Linked DNA regions of Homo sapiens: regions 1 and 3 are each linked to region 2. The links come from fine-mapping of genetic effects on gene expression. A gene starts in region 2. Each other region holds a variant in brackets. All regions are shown on one strand. Distances are between the middles of the regions. Region 1 has its middle 33 kb from the start of SOX8. Region 2 holds the start of SOX8 (SRY-box transcription factor 8). Region 3 has its middle 46 kb from the start of GNG13.

What was found. PIP is the estimated chance that this variant, and not a neighbour inherited with it, causes the effect.
Region 1: its variant is fine-mapped to the expression of SOX8 in aorta (GTEx, PIP above 0.99).
Region 3: its variant is fine-mapped to the expression of SOX8 in whole blood (TOPMed, PIP 0.99).

What each region holds. Positions count from the first base shown.
Region 1 is chr16:1,011,011-1,019,184 of GRCh38, reverse strand. No RefSeq gene overlaps it. Among named protein-coding and RNA genes, the nearest start is that of SOX8, 33 kb to the right of the region's middle. RefSeq lists a silencer at 4,628-4,829. The variant T/C (reference allele first, on the strand shown) is at 4,252.
Region 2 is chr16:977,363-985,536 of GRCh38, reverse strand. SOX8 (SRY-box transcription factor 8) reads right to left here and starts at 3,767. Exons shown (of 3, transcript NM_014587.5): 1 at 3,193-3,767; 2 at 1,577-1,809; 3 at 1-836. The coding sequence starts at 3,614. The coding sequence ends at 151. It overlaps CEROX1 (cytoplasmic endogenous regulator of oxidative phosphorylation 1), which reads left to right and starts at 3,924. Exons shown (of 3, transcript NR_164343.1): 1 at 3,924-5,936; 2 at 6,427-6,512. It also overlaps a transcript of LMF1 not described here.
Region 3 is chr16:842,166-850,339 of GRCh38, reverse strand. No RefSeq gene overlaps it. Among named protein-coding and RNA genes, the nearest start is that of GNG13, 46 kb to the right of the region's middle. The variant G/A (reference allele first, on the strand shown) is at 4,734.

The DNA of each region.
Region 1 (8,174 bases), 34 kb before region 2:
GGCTTCCAGCCCTGTGGTCTCGCTGCTCACTGTTCCTGCAACCTGGGGCTGGGCTCCAAAAGGAGGAGGGGAACACACCCCCAATGTGAGGGGGGCTGGGGGCCCCACCCCCGAACCAGACTGAATGTGGGGCGAGGTCCCCACCCCACATTTCAAAGGACCAGGCTCCTCCATCAGGAAGTCCTCCCTGACTGCCTCAATCTTCCTGAGCTCCCCTGACACCTAACGCTGGGCACACTCTTCCCACCACACCTGTGCCTGCCCATGCCCACATCCACGCATGTGTGTCTGCACCCACCCAGCTCACCAAGGGCCTGGGCTCCATCCACGCATGTGTGTCTGCACTCACCCAGCTCACCAAGGGCCTGGGCTCCATCCACACATGTGTGTCTGCACCCACCCAGCTCACCAAGGGCCTGGGATCCATACCAAATGTGTTCAGCCACATAGAAATGAATAAAGGCCAGGCACAGTGGCTCACACCGGTAATCCCAGCACATTGGGAGGCCAAGGCACGGTTGTTTGAGCCCAGGAGTTTGAGACCAACCTGGGCAACATAGCGAGACCCCATCACTACAAGAAATACAAACATTAGCCGGGTGTGGTGGCGTGCACCTGGAGCCCTGACTACCCAGGTGGCTGGGGCAGGAGGATGGCTGAGCCCAGGGAGGTTGGGGCTGCAGAGAGCGGTGATGACGCCACCGCACTCTAGCTGGGGGAGTGACAAAGGGAGACCCTGTCTCAAAAAAAGAAAATAAATAAGGACACCAAAAGCAACAAAAGGCACACAAAATGTAGAGAGATATTTGAAGTTAAAGACTTTTTGTGTCTCACAGGCCACCATCGAGAAAGTAAAAAGACAACCCACCAAATGGGGGGAATATTTGCAAGTCATTTATCTGATAAGGGGATATATAATATCCATAATACATCAAGAGCCCTTACAAGTCAACAATAAAGGCCGGTTGCGGTGGCTCACACCTGTCATCCCAGCTCTTTGGGAGGCCGAGGCTGGTGGATCACCTGAGGTCAGGAGTTTGAGACCAGCCCGGCCAACGTGGCGAAACCCCATCTGTACTAAAAATATAAAAATTAGCCGGGCGTGGCGGCGGGCATCTGTAATCCCAGCTACTCGAGAGGCTGGGGCAGGAGAATTGCTTGAACCAGGTAGGTGGAGGCTGCAGTGAGCTGAGATGGTGCCATTGCACTCCAGCCTGGGCAACAAGAGCGAAACTCTGTCTCAAAAAAAGAAAAAAGGAAAAAAGAAAAAAAATAAAATAAAAAGACAAATCACCTAATTTAAAATAGCAAAGGATCGAAACAGACATTTCTCAAAGAAGATACACCTGTGGCCAACAAGCACGTGAAAAGATGCTCCGTGTCACCAGCCACCCGGGAAACCCAAATCAAAGCCACGATGAGAGGCCACCTCACACCCATGAGGATGCTTATGTCAGGAAAACCAGGCTGTAGGTGTTGGTGAGGATGCGGAGAAACAAGTCTTCACGCACTGCTGGCAGGAATGGAGAATGAGGCAGCCAGTTTGGAAAACAATTTAATGGTTCCTCAAAAGTCGGAACCTAGAATTAGCACATGACCTGGCAATTCCGTTCCTAGCCATCTACCCAAGATAACTGAAAATATATGTCCACACACACATTTGTATATGGATGTTCATAGTACTATTCACAATAGCCAAAAAAAAAAAAAAAATGAAAGCCACCCAAACATCCACTAACAATTGAATGGATAGATGGGGGACAGTTCACCCACGCAGCGGAACACTAGCCTCACAGAGGAAAGAGATTCTGACCCTTGCTACCGGATGGATGAACCTTAAAAACATGAGTTCAGTGGGAGAAGCCAGACACAAAAGGCCCCGCATCGTGTGATCCCATTTATGTGAAATGTCTTGAATAGGCAAACCTGCAGCGACAGAAAACAGATTGGTGTTTGTCTAGGGCTGAGGGAATCAGGAGTGGGAGGATCCGGAAATACTGATGTCTAAAGGTTGAGTGATTTCTTTCTTTGTTTTTATTTTTTATGATTTTTTTTTTATTTTGAGACGGAGTCTCGCTCTGTCGCCCAGGCTGGAGTGCAGTGGCGCAATCTCGGCTCACTGCAAGCTCCGCCTCCCGGGTTCACTCCATTCTCCTGCCTCAGCCTCCCCAGTAGCTGGGACTACAGGCACCCGCCACCACGCCCAGCTAATTTTTTGTGTGTTTTTAGTAGAGACGGGGTTTCACTGCGTTAGCCAGGATGGTCTCATGATCCGCCCGCCTCGGCCTCCCAAAGTGCTGGGATAACAGGCGTGAGTCACCGTGCCTGGCCAAGGTTAGGTGATTTCTTTTGGGAGGTGATAAAATGTTCTAAAACGGATCATGCTTAGTTCGCACCACATGCTGGCATCCAAACATCTCATGTGCCCCATAAATATATATACCTACTGTGTATCCACAAAAATTAAAAATGAAATAAAATCGATGGTGATAATGGTTACACAATTCCAGCACATTTAGTGGGCGTGCTAAAATCATTGAGCCGTCCATTTTAAAATGGTGACTCTTATGTGAATTATGTCTGAGAAATAAAATTATGAAAAAATTAATAAAGAGCAAACAAGGAAAGAAAAAAAATGCCAAAGAAACTACAAAGTTCAGAGAGTGCCCAGAACCCTAAAGAGGCAGCCAGTGCCAGGGTGGGTCACACTCCACACAGAGCTTCCCGGCGGGCAAAGCAAAGATGGAAACACCCGCAGTATGGGGGGCTGTGGGGTACCATTTGTGGACGATTCACTCCGCTGAGTGTGCCCAGGTGTTTGTCAGGTGTCAACTTGGCTAATCCCAACAAGGTCCGGGCAGGAGGAGGGCTATGTAGATGGGGAAACTGAGGCAGGCCCAAGGTCACCAGTTGATACACGGCAGAAGCCAGACCAGCACCTCAGTGGTTGGGATTGGAGCCTTTGCTCCCAACCCTGTGAGGCCTCCCCACCTCGCCCACCTGCCTGCTTCAGGGTCTTATTCCCTAGAAGGCAGATGTCACCCCCGCAGGATGTCACCCCCTGCAGGGGCCACCACATGCCCCCTCTTTCCAACCCAGGGCCCTCTGCAGCCGGTTCTTTCTTTCTTTTTTTTTTTTTTGAGACAGATTCTCGCTCTGTTGCCCAGACTGGAGTGCAGTGGTGTGATCTTGGCTCACTGTCACCTCCACCTCCTGGTTTCAATATTCTCCTGCTTCAGCCTCCCGAGTAGCTGAGATTACAGGCACCTACCACCACGCCTGGCTAATTTTTGTATTTTTAGTAGAGACAGGGTTTCACCATGTTGGCCAGGCTGGTCTCGGACTCCCGACCTCAGGTGATCCACCCGCCTCGGCCTCCCAAAGTGCTGGGATTACAGGCTTGAGCCACCGCGCCTGGCCTGCAGCCTGCTCTTAAGTTCAAGGAGACGCCACTGTGGGTGACCTATCAGACCAGGCCTGCAGAGCTTGGGGAGAGGATTCAGGGATCATTGCAGCAGGAAGCTGGCCCTTTCCAACAACCACCACGACTAAAGTCTGAAAAATATTTGAAGCCACAAGGATTTTATGAACACGAGGGCCAGGAATGGGTCTGGGCGCTTGTTGGTGCCCTGGCTGGAGAGACCCCAGTCTCCCATGAAGGCTGTATAGAGCAGAAGCACGCGACCTGTGGGTCTGGGCACACGGCTGTCTCTCTGAGGCCAGCTGCTGGAGGAGGCCTGTCCCTGGGTGGACATCAGCAGGAGGAGTGGGCTTCAAGTGACCACAGTTCCCAGGGCCAGCCCCGCACGGAGGCCCCTCAGACCCACAGCTCAAAGCAGAAGGGCCCGGGGTCCTCAGCCAAGACCCCTGCTCCCAGGACGGCTGCGCCCACCCCTGTGAGTGCAGCTCCGCCCTGTCCACCGCCCTGTCCGCCTCTTGTCGGCTCTTCTGGAAACCTCTGCAGTGGACTCGACACAATCCTGAAACACCAGCATCCCCGGGGCCTGCAGGAATGTGCTCCTGCCGGGTGAGCTGGCTTAGACTGGGCGACAAGAGTTCTGTGTGTGTGTGTGCGTGTGTGTGTCTGGGGGTGGGACTGAGGCCTGGGGACTATCTCAGCAGTGCTGGGGCTCTAGGGATCCATGGGAAACAGTGGGCTGAGTGTGCTCTATGTTCTGCTGCAGGCTCTGAGGGCTACAGGCCTTGCCTACCCTGGCATGAGCTGCTGGCCTGCCCTCTGCTCTGAGCAGA[T/C]GTGGGGGTGGGTGGCATCTGGCCACGGAGAGTGGGCCAGGCCCAACACACGCAGCCCAGACCTCTGTCCCGGGGCAGCCTCCCAGGAGGAGCCACCTCCAGCCCTCGCCACGTCACCTCCGGCGTCAGGACTGGCCAGGCCACATCCTCTCCAGACCTGGCCGTCCTTCGCTGCAACCTCGGAGAAGCCACTCTCCTCCTCACCGGCAGCACCTGCCCTGGGGACCCCTTCGTCCCACTCACCTCCAGCCTGGCTGGGACAGGGAGACGACTCTGGGCCAGGGGAACTGGCCCTCCCGGCACAGGCCCTGCTCAGGGCTGGGAGGGAGGCATGGCTCTGTTCTCCCTTTGGTGAACAAGGAAGCCGGCCTCGGGCACTGAGTCCTCCAGCAGGGCAGGCTGGCCAGACAGATGGGCAGGTGGACCCATGGAGGCCACAGCCCCCACTGTAGGAGGCCCCCTCGGCCAGCATCAGAGAACAAGTCCACCCCACTCCACGGACTGGAAGACCGAGACTCACAGGGGCCCGGGGCCACCCCTCAGAAGCCCACACACAGAGCCCAGCCCCACAGACACAGCTCACCCACTCAGCTCACAGGACTGAGCCTAGGATGGGCAGAGGGGACCTGGAAACCCACCCCAGCCCCAGCCCCGCCAACACCTCCTACCTGGAGGCTGCAACGAGAACTGTCAGGGCAGGAGGGGGGCTGCAGGCGCTGGGGCCGTAAATCAGGGCTCCCAGCAACCCCCAGGCCTGGAGGAATTCCAGGCCCCTCCACCGTTTCCTCCCAGCCAGAAGGGGTGTCCTGGGCCCACAACTCGGCTCCCTCCCCGTAGTGGGTACAGAGTGGATCATGAGCTTTCCTGGGCGAGGTCCCCTAAACCAATTCTCTCTCCCCTCTCCTCTCAGCCATCCCAGCTACAGGGAGGACACCGAGGCCAGGAAGGGGGGCGCGTCCATTGCCCCCCAGCTGCATGACGCAGAGTTGGACCCACGTCCAGGGCATGCCTCCGGGTGCAGCTGCTCTAAGCCCAGAGCACTGTGGCCTCTGGAGCACCACCAGTCTCCACAGCCCACTGGCCTGCCCCTGGGTCACCCCAGGCCCCGCCCAGGCCCCCTGGCAGCCTCTGCCTGCCCAAGATCCGCCACCACCCTCCACAGCACCGTGGCCTCCGGAGCACGGTCCGATGCAGGTGGAGGAGGCGCTCCCAGCCCTGGCAGCTACAGCCCCTCCCCAGCCACCAGCCTGGGCCAGGAGCTCCTGTCAAGAGCTGGACACCTGTCCTGGGTTGGTCCTGCCTCACCCAGCGCCCAGCCAGCTCCTCCTCAATGCCACCAGCCCAGCCCAGGACAGAGCTGAGCAAGCAGATGCTCAGGACCAGCCGGAGGGGCCACTTAGGCGGGCAGAACGCAGGGGCCAAGGAGCACCACAGGAAGATCCCAGCCCCGCTGGCGATGGGCACCTGCGTGCAGGCAGAGGGCAGCACATGGAACAGCAACACAGGCCTGCAACAGGACGCAGTGAGGGGGCGCAGGGCTGCACAGTGGTACACGTGTGTGTCCTGTGTGTGCACATGTGTGTCCTGTGTGTGCATGGGTGTGTCCTCCATGTGCACGGGTGTGTCCTGGGTGTGCACTCGTGTGTCCTGGGTGTGCACGTGTGTGTCCTATGTGTGCACTCGTGTGTCCTGGGTGCACACACGTGTGTCCTGTGTGTGCACGTGTCCTGGGTGTGCGTGCATGTGTCCTGGGTGTGCACGCATGTGTCCTGGGTGTGCACACGTGTGTCCTGCGTGTGCGCATGTGTGTCCTGGGTGTGCATCTGACTGGGGGCACCTGTGGGTTTCATCCCCCACCCCAGCCTGCCCCCAGGTCACACCAGGCTCTCCAGGCCCCCAACAGCCTCTGCCCACCTGAGGCCAAGCAACCCCGCAGGTGTCCTGCCCTGCTTACTCCCAGACCAGCCCCACCTCTGCAACCACCCCCCGGGGTCTCAGCCAACAGGAGGTTCCAGTCCCACAAGTTTCAGGAACCACCTGCGGCCAGTATGGGGCTGAGGGTTGGACCCTCGGCCTCACCCTGTCAGGCGCCCCCGCCTGCTCTTTGACATGGGGAGGGCACACAGGTGGGGGCACAGCCCGGTGAGTCCTCCGGACCCTGGGCAGAGGGGCAGGATGCAGGGGCAGAATGCTGACCCCCATCAGCAGCCACCAGGATGGTGTCCTGAGCCTGAGGGTCCCAGGCTCTCATGGCCCTTCCCCGTGCTCCACAGCACTCCAGCCGCCTGCCTAGTCCATGTGGGTCCCAGAGGAGCTGCTGGGCTCTGGAATCATCTTGGGAAAGGCAGGCAGAGGCTGGCCGAGGGTGGGGTAATTCCTGCCTTCCTGGGAATGGGGACAGCCTCAGGGGAGCCCTGGAGATGGATTTTCCCCGATTTACCCAGCTCCCCAGCTCCTCCCAGCAAGATGCTGGGGTGTGGGCTGCTGTGAGACTCCCCATCCCGCGGACCCTGCCTGCCTGCCTTCAGGGTCCCCTGAGTGTTACTAAACAGAGGGGCAAAGCGTGGCCCCCAACGCCCTGAAAGGGAGCCCGCGCTGCGGCCCCAGTGCGGAATCAGGTGCTCAGATCGTTCTGCCGGAGCCTCCACGTCTCTTCCAATGTGCACAGGAAGGGACCCCGGCAGTGTCTCAAACCTGCCATGGGGAGTCTCCTTTCAAAGTAGACTCGAAGCTGAGGGTGACTTGGAAGAATATCGGGCGGACAGGACCACGGTGGCCCGAGGTCCTGCGGGCAGGCTGAGTGTTGGCCGGAGGTAATTCGGGCCTGAAGGTCTCTGTCCCTCCTGCACTGAGCTGTGTGCTGCCCTCTGGGTGGGGCAGCAAGGAAGAGGCGCCCCTGTCGCCCGGGTGCTCCTGCTCACACCAGGGAAAGGGGCAGAGACAGAGAGGGCCCCTCTGTGGTCTGACCCCACCGGAGGAGATGGTCTCCTGGACGCCAAGGCAGGCCACACACGACGTCTGCTTCCTCGGGGGTCTGTGGCCTTCCACCTGACCGCCAGGCACATTCCCGGTCACTCTGCTTTCTGCTCCCCCGTTTGTCTCTCTGCCCTGGGAGAGTCGGGGCAGCTGCAGCCCTTGTGGGACCAGAGCAGGGCTGAGGCACGGTGCGGAGACAGGCAGGGGACGCCTGCCATAGTGGAGTGAGGGTCGCCGAGGCCAGCTGCTGCAGGAAGGGAATGCCGGCTCTGAGTACCACCAATGGCACAGCTGAAAACTGCAGCGATGTCCTCTCCCGCAGCCTGGAGACAGGCCTAAAATCGAGGTGTGAGCAGAGCTGTGCTCCCTCCGGAAGCCCCAGGTGAGGGTCCTTCCCGCCTCTTCCAGCTTCTGGGCCCCTGGCCGCTCTGCCCTGCATCTCTGCCCTGCCGCTCTGCCCTGTGTCTCTGCCCTGCCGCTCTGCCCTACGTCTCTGCCCTGCCGCTTTGCCCTGCGTCTCTGCCCTGCCGCTTTGCCCTGCGTCTCTGCCCTGCCGCTTTGCCCTGCGTCTCTGCCCTGCCGCTTTGCCCTGCGTCTCTGCCCTGCCGCTTTGCCCTGCGTCTCTGCCCTGTGTCTCTGCCCTGCGTCTCTGCCCTGCGTCTCTGCCCTGGCCGCTCTACGCTGTGTCTCTGCCCTGCATCTCTGCCCTGGCCGCTCTGCGCTGCGTCTCTGTCCTACGTCTCTGCCCTGGCCGCTCTGCGCTGTGTCTCTGCCCTATGTCTCTGCCCTGCGTCTCTGCCCTGTGTCTCCTCTGTCTCCCTCCAGGGAGGCTTGCCCGGGCGGGGCTGCTCCTGCCTGCTGGACCAAGCCCCGCACCCACAGCCCTGAACTGCTCACTGCCGGCGCTCCTGGGACCACCCTGGAACCCAGCCTAGGACGCACTCAGC
Region 2 (8,174 bases):
GAGGGCCACGGGCAGCAAGCGTGTTTCCCTGCAGACTTCAGCAGGCACTTGGAGCTCAGCCACTGGGGCCCCTCCCGCCCTGGTCACACACACTGGGCCGGGACAAGGCTGCCCCCTGACGCCTGCGAGTCCCTCCCCGCGGCTGGGCCCTCAGGGCCTGGTCAGGGTGGTGTACACCGGCTGGTCCCAGTGACTGGTGGGGCTGTGGGCGGGCGGCAGGGCCAGGCCGTTGAGCAGGGGTGAGGCGTAGGGCCGGCGCGGCGAGTGGAAGCAGGGGTACTGGTAGAGGCCGGGTGCGTAGCCAGGGTAGGCACCATAGTAGCTGGAGGCCTGCAGGTCGCCATAGTCGCCCTGTGAGCCGGCGAAGGGGCCGGCGGGGGCGGCCGGGGTGGCGCTGGACTGGCCGCTGCAGGAACCGTAGTCGGGCGAGCCTCGGGGCTGGTCGCCGTAGTGGCCGGGGCTCGGCTGCTCCGTCTTGATGTGCGGCCGTGGGGGACCCGTCTCGGTGGGCGACGCGGAGGCCGACGGGGCACTCTTGTGGGCCCACACGGGGGACGCCCCGGCGTGGAAGTAGGCGCCCCCATAGGCCTGGCCCGGCTCGGGTGGGGCGGGGCCGCCCAGGGGCAGGTACTGGTCGAACTCGTGGACGTCGAAGGCGTCCATGGTGCCCATGACCTCGCTGCTGAGCTCCGAGATGTCCACGTTGCTGAAGTCGATGTTCTGGCGCCCGCTGTCCACCGGCCGGCGTCCCTCCAGCTTCAGCTCCGGCTTGGCGCCCGCCTGCTGCAGCTCCGTCTTGGGGGTGGTGGGCGGGGTGGGCGGCCCGTGGGTCTGCCCTGGGGACAGGAGAGCAGGCTTCAGGGATGAATGCCCCTTCTGTGGGGCGGGTGGGGCCGGCCAGGCTGGAAGGGGAGGGACGCCCGCGCTAACTGCCAGGGGGATCAACGGCTTTTTGTTTCTTTACATTTCCCAGAAATTCCAGCAAAGTCAGACCTAGACCTCACTCCTCGGCCGAGAAAATTCCATGAAGCGCTGTGCTATGAGAAGACCCGAGGCCCCTCCCAGAGACCAAGGTGGGGGGAAGAAGCCGACAGGCCCAGCCTGGCCAGAGCTGGGGTTTACAGGGCGCTGGGGGACCACACAGACCCTGTTCCTCCCCGGGCCAGCCAAGCACTCTGAGGCTGGCGGGCGTCAGCCAGCCTGACCGAGGCCCCGGCAGGACTCCACCCTGTCAGTCTGGCCCTGAAGCTGGGGCTGCTGAGTGCCGTGTGGGCAGCAGCTCGGTGTGGGAAGAGGAGCCCGCATTGGACTGAGTCTTGCTGAAAACACCACCTCTCGGGGTCCCTGCCAAGCAAAGCTGTCAGCCCCTCAGCACTCAAGGTGGCTAAGCAGGTCCCTCGTGCACCAAAAACAGGGGCGGCCGGGGCCTTGGGAGCTTTTTCAGGGAACCCGGGGAAGGCCCGGTTCTCTCGAGGGCGCCTGCCCCCCTCCACCATCATGCACCCTTCTCAGCCAGAAACCCCACAGCTGCCTCCCATACAGGGACCCTCAGATATGCGGGGGGCCTGGAGCCCACCTGTGTGGTCGCCATGGTGGTGCCCATCTCCAAGCCCTGCTTCAGCCTTGTACACGGCACCGCCGCCAGGGTGGGGTCCCAGCTCCGCGCCCGAGTCGGAGTCGCTGTGGCCGGCTTTGGCGCTCTTCCTGCGCCGTGGCTGGTACTTGTAGTCGGGGTGGTCCTTCTTGTGCTGCACGCGAAGGCGCTCTGCCTCCTCCACGAAGGGCCGCTTCTCGCTCTCGCTCAGCAAGCTGCAGCACAGGGCAGAGGCAGGGATGGCCAGGGCGCCCACTGTGCCCTCGGCGCAGGCACACACCACAGGGGGAACCGGCAGCAGAGGCCGGGGCCAGGAGGCTCTGACCAGGGAAACCCGCCTGCCGTGCGCTCCGGAGCCTCCCGTGGCACCAGGCAGTACACTCCTCTGGGAGAACCGGCCGGCGCCTGTTTGGGAAGGTTGGTATGCTTACGACAGCCAAAGAAGAACAAGCCCCACGCCTCCCATCTTCCTCCTTCTATTTCCCCCTATTCCGGGCCTGCTGTTCCCTCCCTCTGGGGCTTTCTAAGGGAGGCGGGGGAGGCGGGCAGGACCCAGCCGGCGGTGGACAAAAGCGAGGCTTCCCGGGAACGGTGCCGGCCTTCGGCGGGCAGCTGGGCTGCTGTCCCTCCATTCCCAGACACCCAGAAGCCCTGGCAGGGCCCAGGCGCCCGTCCTCACTGAGCCACAGGACACACTCCTTGGGACTCTTCCCGAGGCTCACCTCCAACCGCCTGTGCGGCAGGACTTGGGGGAGCAGGGGCCTGCCGTCCACAGCGCCCCGTGGCTGCGCCCTAGATCCAGACAGAAGGCAGGAGGTGCAAATACGCAAGCTCCAAGCTCCCTTCTTCCAGGTGAGGAGCAGGATACGGGAACCAGAGCCCCAAACCAAGAGAACCATTTGAAACCCAACCAGAGGACACTCGGTGGGGGCGGCCTGTCCTGAGCAACAAGTTCTTCACTCTGCAGTCCTAATTTCTGGAAAACTGACCGGCCCCACCACGCCAAGGCGTGCACACGGCGCACCCCGTCATCTCCACTCCTGCCCTCCCTGCTTCGGACCGAGGGTGTCCAGGAGAGGGAGAAACTGCGGGGAGGGTACTCGCAGGCAAACCTGCTGCCCACCCATCCGCCTGCCGCACTCCCTCCCCATGGGTGGTCCAGGAGCTAGAGGAGCTGAGCCCTTTCTAAGGAGGGAGCACCTCCAGAGAGCCGCATGCAACTTGCTGTCGTGCCGGGCGTGCCTCCCGGGGCTGGGGCCACTCGCAACGGCTGGAGGGCACGTCGGGGTGCCAGCCATGGCCCTCCGCAGGGTGTTCCCCGCCAGGAGAACTGGCTCCAGAGCGCACCCGCCACGAGGGTGCACACCCCAGGCGCTGCCCTCCGCGGATCCCGACTCCCATAGCTGGCGCCGGACCCCGGCTGGCCAGAGGATGTTTTTCCACTGGGACCCGCCCTGACACCCGCCCGGGGTGCAGAGCCCGGAGCCTGCGTGTGGCCACCACCTCCGCGAGCTCTGCGCCCTCCAGGCCCCCGCTCGCAGTCCGAGACCAGGGGCGGCCAAGGTCCCGAACCCCGCCCCCGGGGCGCCGGCACTCACCGCCACAGCTTGCCCAGCGTCTTGCTGAGCTCGGCGTTGTGCAGGTGCGGGTACTGGTCGGCCAGCTTGCGGCGCGCCGCCTGCGCCCACACCATGAATGCGTTCATGGGCCGCTTCACATGCGGCTTGGCTTTGAGCGCGCCGCCGCCGCCGCCGCGCACCGGCATGGGCACCAGACTCCAGTCGTAGCCCTTGAGCACCTGCGACACGGCGTCGCGGATGCAGGCCGGGAAGCGCTCGTCCGCCGCCTCCGCCGGGTCGCCCCGGGCGCCCCCCACCGCGACCCCCGCGCGGCCCAGGCCCTCGGAGCCGGCGGGAGACGGCGGCGCGTCCGAGTCCGAGTCCTCCACGTGCGACATGGAGCTGGCGGTGCCGGACGGGCTGCAGGGCGGCTGGGAGCGGGCCTCGCTCATGTCCAGCATCGGGGCCGCGCGCGGAGGGGCGCGCACAGGAGACGCGCACCGGGGCCGGCGCCCGGGGCTGCCCTGCGGTCGCTCCGGGACCCGAGGTCGCCGCGCGGTGGCCCCGACCCTCGCCCCTGCCGCCGCCGCCGCCGCCGCCGAGGCTCGGGTCCCGCTGCGGGACCCGCAACAAGTTTCTTTAAGCGGCGGCCCCGCGGCCCCGCCCCGCGCCCGGCTACCCATTGGCGGAGCGCGCCCCGATCCCCCGGAGGCGGAGCCCGGCCGCCCCCGCCCCCCCACCCATAAAGAAAGCTCCGCGGCTCTCGCCGCGCCCCCGCCTGCCCCGCCCGGCGCCGCACCACGTGGGCCAGGCGCCCCACGCCTGGAGCTCCCCTCTCTGGAGCCCCGGGAAAGGAAGCGGGGCAGGGAGGCCGGGTGGGAGCAGGGGGGTCTCCGGCGCTTCCTCTCCTCTGCGGGCGCCGCGCGGCTCCTGAGAGTCCGCCCCCCGTCCTGACGCTCAGCTAGGAAGCGGGTCCTCGGGCCCCTCCCCCGACACACACACACACACACACACACACACACACACACACACACACTCTCTCTCTCTCTCTCTCTCTCTCTCTCTCTCTCTCTCTCTCTCACACACACACACACACACACAGCCCGTCTCGCGCCTGAGGTCTCGCCCGCAGGCCGGTGGCGCGGGGTCAGCTGCTGCCTGCGGTCCAGGACAGGGTCGGTTCCGCCGCGCAGCGCCCAGGCCCAGCTCGTCCAGAGTCTGCGGACAGCGCACGTCCAGGTAACGCGCTTCAAGGGGCCGCGGCTCGGAGCTGGGGGACCCCGGGCCGCCCTGCCCATACGAGTGCGAGCGTGGAGAGCGCGGGCGGGGGCGCGGTCCCGGGGGCCGGCCAGCTGGAGGGGGCGGGAGCGCTGGGCGGGGCCTGCGCTGACCCCGGCGCTGAGTCCCTGGGGCCGCCGGGCGGATGGCGTGGCCGGACGCGGGGGCCCCGGGCCTTCCGGGCGTGACCTAGGGCTCGGGGGCGGGGAGGCCCCTCCGGCGGGGCGGCCCTGGGTGGTCCGGCAGAGGCGGAGGCCGCTCCGAGCCTGTGAGCCCTGGGCGCCTGCGGAGGCGGGGAGAGGGCGGGGTGTGCCGCCCTGGTGGGGACCGCGGGGTCGGAGAGGGGACATTGCCCCCCCCGAGGCGAACGTCCAACCGCGGGTCCGGGTCCCCGCCCAAGGCCGCCCCGCGAGGTGGCCTCGGCCCGGCCGTCCCCGAGGGTGGCTCGGATCCTTTCAACCAGCGCGCTGGAGGCGAAGGGGCTGCGCCATTCCGGGTCAGGCAGCCAACGCGGGACACGCGCGTCTCCGAGCTTGCGGCCCGCGAAACCCGGGTGACCTACCGCGCCGGTGCCCTCAAAGCCCCCACGCCCGGGCCGGTGGCCGCTGCAGCCACTGAGCCACGCGGTCTCCCCGGCCCGGTCGGCAGAAGGAGCTGGTCCGTTACTAGAAAAGTCCAGATGCAAAGTCGGGGGTCGTGCTGCCGCTTCCTGCCAGCGCACCGCACCCACCTGGGGCCGCCACCGACCGCACAGGACGCGCCTCCTACCCCCTGTTCTGGCCCGGCCGAGAGCTGGTGCCCCCAGCGGCCGCCCGCCCCCGTCCGCAGACCCCGGGGCCCTTGCTGCTTTGCATTGGGAACAACCGGAGCCAGGCCCGGAGCTGAGGGGGCCAGGGCCTTTGGAGGAAGCATTGGCCTCCAGGCTGAAGAGCAAGGGCCGTGTCACCTGCCCGGAGGGCGGTCTCATCTCTGCAGCCAGGTCAGAGGAAGCAGCGGTGGGGAGACGGAGTGCGCGAGTTGGGAGGCTCCACGCATCGTAGGTGGAGAGCTGGCTGCCAGCCTGGCCTGCCCTCTCTTCCCCGTCCCACCATCTCGCTTGGCTCCGGCACCTGCCTGGGAAGACCCACACCTCCGTCTGCAGTGCCTCTTCCCCCTGGAGGCCCTGCCCTCCGCTCGGGGTCCCCGCATCCTTCCGTGGCCCTCAGAGCATCGCCTGGGGCGCCCGCGGAACTCATCTGTTAGGCCTGGGATGCAGGCAGGCAGAAGTGGGGGTTTAAGTGGAAGCAGTGAGGGTGGGGGTCCGGTCCAAACTGTGCCACCTTCCACCCCCTGCCCCTGGGAGAGCAGACATCGCCCACTCGGGCTCACAGTGCCATCCGGGTGAGGACCTCCGTGGAGAGCTCTCTTTGCCAAAGAAAAGCAGTTGCATTAGGTCTGCGAGCAGGCAGGGTGGCCTCTTCCTGGCTCCCCATCCACCAAGGAAGCTTCAAGTCCCTGGGACACAGGTGGGGAACTCCAGCACCCCTGGAGGAAGGGAGACTGAGGTTGGGGAGTGGCATCCAGGCCCTGACTCTGGGGCACGGTGGTCTGTGCAACTGAGACCCTGCCTCAGGCTCCAACAGCGCCTGCTCCTTTCCCCAGGTTGCAGTGATCACCAGGGGAGGTGCTGGGCGTGCAGGCTGCCACAGGAGGGGTGGGGAGGTGGGGAGTCTCTGTGGCGGGGTGGTGGGGGCCTAGGCCAGTCAGCTGAGGACGTGTTGGTGCACTCCCGGGAGGGCGGTATGTGGGTGAGGATCCCCATGCAGAGTGGTGCCCACAAACCCCCCTTCCAGAGTCATCTCTGGTCCACCTTGAAGTCCCCAGGAAAATGACCTCGTCCTCCGCGGGTGTGAGCCACTAGGCCTGAGAGGACGCCGGGACGGAGCTTTCAGAGAGGGAGGTGTCGGGATGGCTTGAGGGTCACCAGGTATTAATTAAGCACTTGCTGTGTGCCAGGCACTTTCCCACACAGGATGGAGCCGGGCCACCCTCACAGCTCCTGCCCTGCAGACGCTGGCCTTGTGGAGGGAGGCAGGCAGCAGGTAACTCCAAAAGCACCTCTCAGAGGCGGGGACTTCAGGAAGGATGGTCTGGGAAAGCATCTTTGGTGTCATTTAAGCTGAGCCCTGAAGCTTCTGATCTCCTGCAGGGAGAGGCCAGCGTGTTCCCTGGGGAAGCTAGAGCAGAGTGTCTGATGACAAGAGATGGACCCGGGGGTGGAGAGTGGAGGGGCAGCCATCAGAGCCACCTCTGAGTCCACCTGATGGGCCCATGTCTTCATCCAGGGGGGAGCTGCACACACACCCTCCTCCCCTGTCTCCCATCCCTGCCCCACCCCTTCAGCTGGGGCCTGCTCCGCCGTGTCTGCATGGCCCCACCCACCCTGACCTCACCACCTGCTAGTGGGCCTTGCAGTTTCAGGGGGAGTGTACGTTTCAAGTATACCCTGATGGGGGAATCTGGACCAGGGCTGTCCCCTGGGCCGTGAGTGCCGGGCGTGGAGAGCTGGTGTAGATGACATTTGTAGCTCCACATGCCCTGGCCTGGGCGCCAAGGACAGCCGCAGAGAAGAATGTGGGTGGACAGGCTCTGCTGCCCATGAGATGGTGCAGGGATGGCCTGGGGGATGCTTCCAGATGAGAGACCACCCCACCCTACCCGTGGCTCCTAGGGATGGCGACCCCGGAGGCGCGTGTGTTCATGTGTGTGTGTGGTGTGTGTTTGTATGGTATGTAATGTGTGATATGTGTATGGGATGTATGTATGGGGTGTGTTTATGGTGTGTGTGGTGCGTGTATAGTGTGTATGGTGCGTGTATAGTGCGTATGGTGTGTATGGTGTGTGGTGTGTATGTGTATGATGTGTGTGATGTATGTGTGTGGGGTGCGTGTATGGTGTGTGGTGTGTGTGTGTGTGTATGATGTATGTGTGTGGTGTGGTGTGTGTATGGTGTGTGGTGTGTGTGTGTCCGTGTGTGTTTGGTGTGGTGTATGTGTGCAGGGTGTGGGTGTGTTTGTGTGTGTGTGATGTGTGGTGTGCGTGTGTATGATGTGTGTGTGTGGTGTGTGTGTGTGCGTGTATGTGTGTGGTGGGGTGTGTGTATGGTGTGTGGTGTGTGTGCGTGTGTATGATGTATGTGTGTGGTATGTGTGTGGTGTGTGTGTTTAGTGTGTGGTGTATGTGTGCAGGGTGTGGGTGTGTTTGTGATGTGTGGTGTGCATGTGTATGGTGTGTGTGTGTGTGTGGTGTGTGTTGGGCCCAGGGCACGAGGAGGAAGCAGGGCTGCCCAGGGAAATGCCACCCTGGAGAGGCCCCTGTCCCTCCCTCTCCGTCCTTCCCTGTGCCCCTCCGTCCCTCCCTGCCCGTCCTCCCCGTCCCCCTCCATCCACCCCCAACCCGGCCCTCCTCCTGCGGCAGGCAGCCCATCTTTTGTGCGGCCTCTGAGAAGCACAGGGAGGGCCCGGCGGGCGTGAACCCGCTGGCAGCCGGTGTGTGCACAGCCTTGGCCCGGGCCTCCCAGCCCCTGCATCCCGAGCACCCGTGGGGCAGTTGGCAGCGTCCTGGCACGGCCTGGGAGATTAATTGGTGCTTTTAATGACGGCTGGTCTGGCAGAGACAGAGTGACTACAGGCTGGGCCGGCGCAGGCTGTGAGCAGAGGCTGGGAAAGGCCCCGCCCCCGGACGGGTCTCCAGGGGAGAGGAGG
Region 3 (8,174 bases), 140 kb after region 2:
TCCGATGAGAACAACCAGGTACCTTCCGATGAGAACAACCCGAGAAATCATTCCACACATGCAACCAGGTACCTTCTGACAACAACGACCCAAGAAATCGTCCCACACGCAGCCAGGTACCTTCCAACGAGGACAACCAGGTGTCTTCCGACAAGAACAACCAGGCACCTTCCAACGAGAACAACCAGGTACCTTCCGATGAGAATGACCCAAGAAATTGTCCCACACGTGGCCTGGTACCTTCCGACAAAGGCTCTGAGACCATTCAATGGGAAGAGGACAGCCTTTTCAGCAAATGGTACTGGGAAAGCTTTATCTCCACATGCAAAATAATGAATGAAGCTGGCCCCTTACCTAACAGCATACACAAAAATTAACCCAAAAAACATAGGATGAAACACCTAAATGTAAGAGCTAAAACTGTAAGACTCAGAATAAAACCTGGGAAAATCTTAAGGACATTGGATTTGGCAGTGTTTTCTTGGATATGACAACAACAGCACCGGCAACAACACAGAAAATAAATTGGACTTCATCAAAATTTGACATTTCTGGCCGGGTACAGTGGCTCACACCTGTAATCCCAGCACTTTGGGAGGCCAAGGCAGGCGGATCACCTGAAGTCAGGAGTTTGAGACCAGCCTGGCCAACATAGTGAAACCCCGTCTGTGCCAAAAATACAAAAATTAGCCTGGCGTGGCAGGCACCTGTAGTCCCAGCTACTCGGGAGGCTGAGGCAGAAGAATCGCTTGAACCCGGGAGGCAGATGTTGCAGTGAGCTGAGACCGTACCACTGCACTCCAGCCTGGGCAATAGAGTAATATTCTGTCTTTAAAAAAAAAAACTGTGGCTATAAGTGAGACTGCAGAGCTGCCCCGGGCTGCTGTCTGTGGAAGCCCTGCCCTGCGGGAGCAGCCACAGCTGTAACCCCACCTCTGAAGTAAAGCTGTTTCCTTCCACCTCTGGCTCGACCTTGAATTCTTTCCTGGGCAAAGCCAAGAACCCTCTGGGACTAAGCTCCTCTTTCGGGCTCGTCTGCCATGCATCAGAATGATGTGGCCACGTGGAGACTGTCTGGGGGTTCCTCGAAATGTTCAGTGTAGACGGATGACCACATGACCCCGCAACTCCACGTCTGCACGTAGACCCGGGAGAGCTAGAAACGGCGACCACGTGACCCCGCAACTCCACGTCTGCACGGAGACCCGGGAGAGCTAGAAACGGGGACCACGTGACCCCGCAACTCCACGTCTGCACGTAGACCTGGGAGAGCTAGAAACGGGAACCACGTGACCCCGCAACTCCACATCTGCATGTAGACCCGGGAGAGCGGGAAACGGGGACCTGGGTGTGCTTGCACCGGAACGTTTGCAGCAGCCCAGAGGTGGGGACAGCCCAGATGAACAGACCAGGTGTGCTCACCCATGAGCATTACGCAGCCGCAAAGAGGAGCGAGGCCCCGACGCTCAGATGAGCCTTGAGAACCTGATGCCCAGTGAACCCGCCAGACACAGAGGGCACCGGTCCTGCGATGCCGTCTCTGGAATGTCCAGAACAGGGAAACCCACAGAGACGCTGGGCAGGGAGAAGGTGGACGGCTCTCGGGGCTGCTGGCAGGAACAGGGAGAGCGGGCATGACGGCTCACAGGTCCAGAAGGTTCTCTGGCGGGTGATGAAAATATCTGGAATTAGGCAGAGATGCTGGTTGTGCGTGTGGCCAATGTGTTACGTGCACCACACTGCTGACCTTTAAGTGGTTAATTTTATGTAAATGTCAACTTCACCTCAATGTTTTGAAATACAGCAAAGCAAAGCAGAGTGTCTTAAGCGTCCTGAGACCCTGGGCCTCCCTGCCTCAGGGCCCAGACCCTCACCCTGCCAGAAGGTCCAGTGGGGCTCAGGATGCCGGGCAGGGAACGCGCTTCACTCCTTCTCTGTGGCGTGCATGGGGCTGGAGCCGCTTAAGACCAAGGCTCAGTGCACCTGGATGCTGGTTAACCCGAAAGTGCCGTACGGAGCCACCAGTGGTCCCACAAGCTCTGATGATGGCCGCAGTCACGGACATGCAAACTTTGATTCACTGAGGACCACGCGAGCAAATGACAGGTGATGCCGGCAATTCTCAGCCCACTGCTGCCTGGATAGCTTGCCCCTTACGCCGCGAGCCAGGCTGCCCACCCAGCCCACACCCGGGCCCACCTGGCGCTTAGCAAATGGCCTTCCCACATCACGCTGGTGGCTTTCCGCACCACCCAGTGTTCACCTGGGCTCCCACACACCAGCAGGAGGCAGCAAGCAGGCACCTCCCTCCCATCTTGCTCCAAGCGCTGTGTGCGGGAGGGATGGAAACCTCCAGGCGCTGGGAAGAAGCACCCCAGGCACTAGGCAGGGGAAGGCTGGGGGGCCTCCGTGCCCACCCCCAGGTCTGAGCGCATTGGGGAACCCGGGGCACCGGGAGGGTTTGCGGACAGTGCCACCCTCCCTGCAGGGCTGCGGCCACCTTACTTTGCCTGGGCCGCCTGGCCAGGGGCCGCAGCTGACCCGCTGAGTCTGGGTTGGTGGCTCACCGTTCTAGGGTTTACACCTGACCCAGTGTGATCTATACCTGCCCAGGTCATACCACACTGTCCAAACTGTTACAGCTTTCAAACCAGCCCTGGACTGGCCGTCATAGCCGCCTTGATTGTCGTTGGCCCATTGCTGGAAGCAAGTTGGCGAAAGCTTCCGTCAGCTCTGACGGTTGGTGTGCAGACAGATGGCGGGCCGCAACATCCTTTCCTCCCCTCCCTGAGCCTCTTTTTCTCTTGGGTGGCAGGTGGGGCCATCTCCTCTGCCTCATCTTTTTCCTAACCTGGAAGTTGTTCCTTAAACACCTGCCCACGGTGGGCTACTGTGAAGCCCTTCACCCGCAGCCATGTGGACATGCTGGAGGAACATCAACAGACTCTCATCTGAACAACAAAAAAGAGGAAAGAACACTCAGCAAAGGAAAGAAGAGGCACTGAGCCAGGTCAGCACCCCGGGCCGCTGGGAGAAGGTACCTAGTCCAGATGATATGGGACACACAGGGGTTTACAGGAAACCGCGACACATTACAGACACGGGACACACACGGGTTTACAGGAAACCGGGACACATTACAGACACGGGACACACACAGCTTTACAGGAAACCAGGACCCATTACAGACACGGGACACACACGGGTTACAGGAAACCGGGACACATTACAGACACGGGACACACACGGGTTACAGGAAACCGGGACCCATTACAGACACGGGACACACACGGGTTACAGGAAACCGGGACACATTACAGACACGGGACACACACGGGTTACAGGAAACCGGGACCCATTACAGACACGGGACACACACGGGTTACAGGAAACCGGGACGCATTACAGACACGGGACACACACGGGTTACAGGAAACCGGGACGCATTACAGACACGGGACACACACGGGTTACAGGAAACCGCGACACATTACAGACACGGGACACACACGGGTTTACAGGAAACCGGGTCACATTACATACACGGGACACACACGGGTTACAGGAAACCGGGACCCATTACAGACACGGGACATACACGGGTTACAGGAAACCGGGACCCATTACAGACACGGGACACACACGGGTTTACAGGAAACCAGGACCCATTACAGACACGGGACACACACGGGTTACAGGAAACCGGGACGCATTACAGACACGGGACACACACGGGTTACAGGAAACCGGGACGCATTACAGACACGGGACATACGTGGGTTTACAGGAAACCGGGATCCATTACAGAACAACGTCAGTGAACCCCAAGCTGCAATGATCTAGCAAAAAGGTGAGAAAATACAAATAGCCAATATCAAGAAGAAAAGATATCACCACAAATCCACAGAGATGCTACAGGAATAATAAGGTAATATTATGAACAACTTTATTCTAATCAACTCAGCACCCTACATTAAATGAGAAACACTCCGTGAAAGGCACAGATTACTAAAACGAACGCTAGCCCAAACCCTAATCCTCTCCCTACAGCCGACGAAGAAAGAAAGCCCAAGAGTCCCATAATAATTGAAGAAACTGAATTTGGGCCGGGCGCAGTGGCTCACGCCTGTCATCCCAGCATTTTAGGAGGCCCAGGCAGGTGGATCACCTGAGGACAGGAGTTTGAGACCAGCCTGGCCAACATGGTGAAATCCCGTCTCTACCAAAAATACAAAAACTAGCCCCCATGATGGTGCACACCTGTAATCCCAGGTACTCGGGAGGCTGTGGCAGGAGAATCACTTGGACCCGGGAAGCAGAGGTTGCAGTGAGCGGAGATCGCACCATTGCACTCTAGCCTCGGTGACAGAGTGAGGCTCCATCTCAAAAAAAGAAAAAAGAAATTGAATTTGTAATTTAAAATTTTCCACAAAGAAAACTTGAGGCCAAGATGTGTTCACTGGCGAGTTCCATGCAATACTCGGTAGAGAAATAACACTGCCCTATCCAAGCTCTTCCAGAAAATGGAGGAGGAGAAGCCTCATACGCCCACCAGGACGGGAGGAGGCAGCCACTCTGGAGAAGTGTCAGTTCTGGAAACATGAAGCGTGAACTTCCTCAGGAAGCAGCCACTCCACTCCTAGGTATCTGCCCGAGAGACATGAAAGCACAAGGACGTGTAAGCAGCGTTTATAGCGGGTTGATTTACTGCAGCCAGGACCCGGGGTGGTGCC[G/A]GTGTCCGTCAGCAGGAGGACGGGTGAACCGGGTCATCTTGGAGCCATCGTCCTCAGAAACAGGCACATCCGGCTGTTGATACGCACAGCGTCGGACCCTCCAAGGCACCACGCTCAGCTAAAGAACACAGACGAAAGAGCTCACAGGGCGCAGCTCCACTCGCGGAACTGCAGGGAGGACCGCGGCCCAACTCCAGTGACAGACGCAGGCCCATGTTGCCGGGGCCGGAACGCAGGGAGATCTGGGAGAGGAATGTTCTGAATCTCAGCTGTGGTGCCGGGTGCCCTTGTCAGAAACCGTCGGTTACATTTAAATGGGTGCATTTTGTGTTTGGAAATCATGCCCGGCTCTCTGGATAAAGCCCTGATTTATGTGGTTTTGAATTTCTGTGATCTAAACACCGTGCCCGCCCCCATCTCCGATTCAAGCCCCCAACACGTCCTCACTCAGCACGGAGCTGGGCAGACGTGCACGACCGGCTCCCACCTGCTGGCACGAGCCCACCTCACCTTGGGGAGTTGATTTGTAAAATGAAATGAGCACAGAAACGTGTCAGCGCCAGGCTGGACCCAGCGAGCCGCCGATGCCAGCGAGATGCCAGGCTGGACTCAGCAAGCCGCCGATGCCAGCCAGACGCAGAGCAGAGAACGCTGGTCAAAGAGCAGCTAGGCGGTGTCTGCTCGGCCGAAGCCCAGTCCCGGAGAGGCAGGCTCTGTACCAGGACGTGGAGGCTCCGGGGTCATGAAACCCCCAGGGTGAGAGACAAAGGTAGTGAGTGGCCGTCCAGGGCAGAGGGGACGGAGGCAGCACGCGGACGGAGCCTCCGCACAGAGCGTCACGGCCACGACTGGAAAGCTCAGACACGTGTCACGAGCCCACAGCCCAGGTCAGAGGCGGCAGGATGGCGGGCGGCCCCATGCACAGAACTGCGGCCACGTGTGGAAGGCGACGGACACTGGCGGCACAGGGTCTACTGTGCTCTGGACCTGGTGGTGGCCACGCTGATGTTCACCCGTGGACATGTTGGAGCTCGCTGTCCACTGTGTGTGCTGCTTTGCGTGAGTTCCAATCCACGCGGAAACTATTATGATCAGAAAATCTCTCTAACTGTGGCGTGTGAGAGCCTCCAGTTCCGGGTGTTGTGCTGTTGTTTTGAGACGGAGTCTCACTCTGTCACCCAGGCTGGAGTGCAGTGGCGCCATCTGGGCTCACCACAGCCTCCGCCTCCCGGGTTCAAGTGATTCTCCTGTCACAGCCTCCAGAGTAGCTGGGAATACAGGCGCCCGCCACCACGCCCGGCTAATTTTTGTATTTTTAGTAGAGATGGGGTTTCACCATGTTGGCCAGGCTGGTCTCAAACTCATGATCTAGTAATCCACCTGCCTCGGCCTCCCAAAGTGGTAGGATTACAGGCGTGAGCCACTACGCCCGGCCTGGGCTGCACTTCTGAGTCCCTGAAGCTTCCACTGTGTTTATTATGAAGAGCTGAGCTGCGGTTTGTCCTCTAACATGTGTGCTAAGGAAGCGGGAGGAGACCCGGCTCCGGGCGGGGCCATTGTGGCTCCTGGCCTCTCTGCCTCTTCCATCCTATTTTGTTTCTGCTGATGGTCGACCCCGGGCAGCCTGAGCACAGCCACCCCGCCCCCCTGCATCCAGGTCACCGTGTCCCGAGCACAGCCGCCCCCCTGCATCCAGGTCACCGTGTCCACCCAGTGATGTGCTTCCCAGGCCGGACTTTTCTAAACTCAGCCTCTGAACCCACCACAGGCCGGACACACGGCGCCTTCCCCCAGCCCCACGGCTTCGAGAGCGCCCTGGCGAGTGCCTGTCCAGGAAACCTTGTTTTTTGTTTTTTTTTTTTGCGACGGAGTATCGCTCTGTCGCCCAGGCTGGAGTGCAGTGGCGCGATCTCGGCTCACTGCAAGCTCCACCTCCCAGGTTCACGCCATTCTCCTGCCTCAGCTTCCGGGGTAGCTGGGACTACAGGCGCCCGCCACCACACCCAGCTAATTTTTTGTACTTTTAGTAGAGACGGGGTTTCACCGTGTTAGCCAGGATGCTCTCAATCTCCTGACCTCATGATCCACCCACCTCGGCCTCCCAAAGTGCTGGGACTACAGGCGTGAGCCACCACGCCCGGCCCCAGGACACCTCGTTTTAAGGGCAGTGAAAGCCAGGAAAGCCACGGCCAGCAAGACCCAGCAAGACCCAGCAAGGCCCACGCCACCCTTGCTCCTGTCGAGGGGCCGGCGCCCGTTTGTCCTCAGGGAAGGTGGTCTTCGCCGCTGGCTCTGGTCAGGGCTGCATCTGGGCCACCAGGATGTTCAGTGCCAGCCCTGCAGCTGCGGGGCCTTCTGTGGTGGGCACGCATTTGCATCTCAATGACCCTGATTAATATTTAAGGAGCCAGCTGTCTGAGACACACGAAAAAAAGGGTGAAAAAAGCGCCTTGTTCCCTTAAAGGGCGGGCTCCAGGCTCTCCATCAGGTGGCCTCGTCTCCCCACACGATGTCCACACTCACAGTTCTTCTCCATGCAAAAGATACGCGGCATCATCAGCCAGATCAGGACCCGTGTCCCCTCCAGGGCCGGCCCCATTGTGTGCCGCACAGCTGCAGGCTGCAGCCCCAGCCCGTCTGCCTGCCCTGCCCTTTCACAGCCCTGTCTGGTGGAGGTGGATGGCACAGCCCACAGCTGTGCACAGGACACAGCTCAGGGGGTGCCCCAGCCAACGCACCCCCGGCCCAGGGGCATCCCCCACTCGGTCACTGTCACCCCAGCCAGGGGCCTCCCCAGCCACCCGCCCATCTGTCCACGGTGCCTTTGGGGCAGGCGTGGCCAGTCCTGCCCTTCCTGTTGTCTGACCCCTCACTGGGTGTCAGCTCCCCCGAGGAGGGTCTGAGGGTCGGCCTTGACCCCAGGACAATGGGCTGAATGCTGTCTCCCTAAATTCACGGCCACCCGGAATCTCAGAACGGGACCTATTTGGAACTAGGGTCTCTGCAGTTGTGATTAAGGGGAAGGCCTTGAGATCAGGTCATCCTGGATTGAGGATGGCCCAGACCCAGTGACGGCTTCGTAAAGCCAGGGACGATGATACACAGCAAGGGAACAAGGCTGCGTGAACACGGAGACAGAGTGATCCACCCACCCTGGGGCGTCCAGCCGCCGGGAACCAGAAGGGGCAGGAAGCATCGTCACCCGGAGCCTCCAGAGAACACATCTCCAAGACACCGAGACTCACTTCCGCAGAGCTGGGAGGGGACACCTCACCGTTGCCTGGAGACACAACACAGCCCTGGGTTGCTGCAGGCCCAGGAGACGGGGGCCCCAGCAGGAGTAGGAGGCGGCGCCTGCAGGCCCAGGAGCCCCACAGACCCGGGTCCAACCGAGAGGAGCACGTGGAGGCCCCTCCTCAGTCAACCGCCCCACCACCCCCT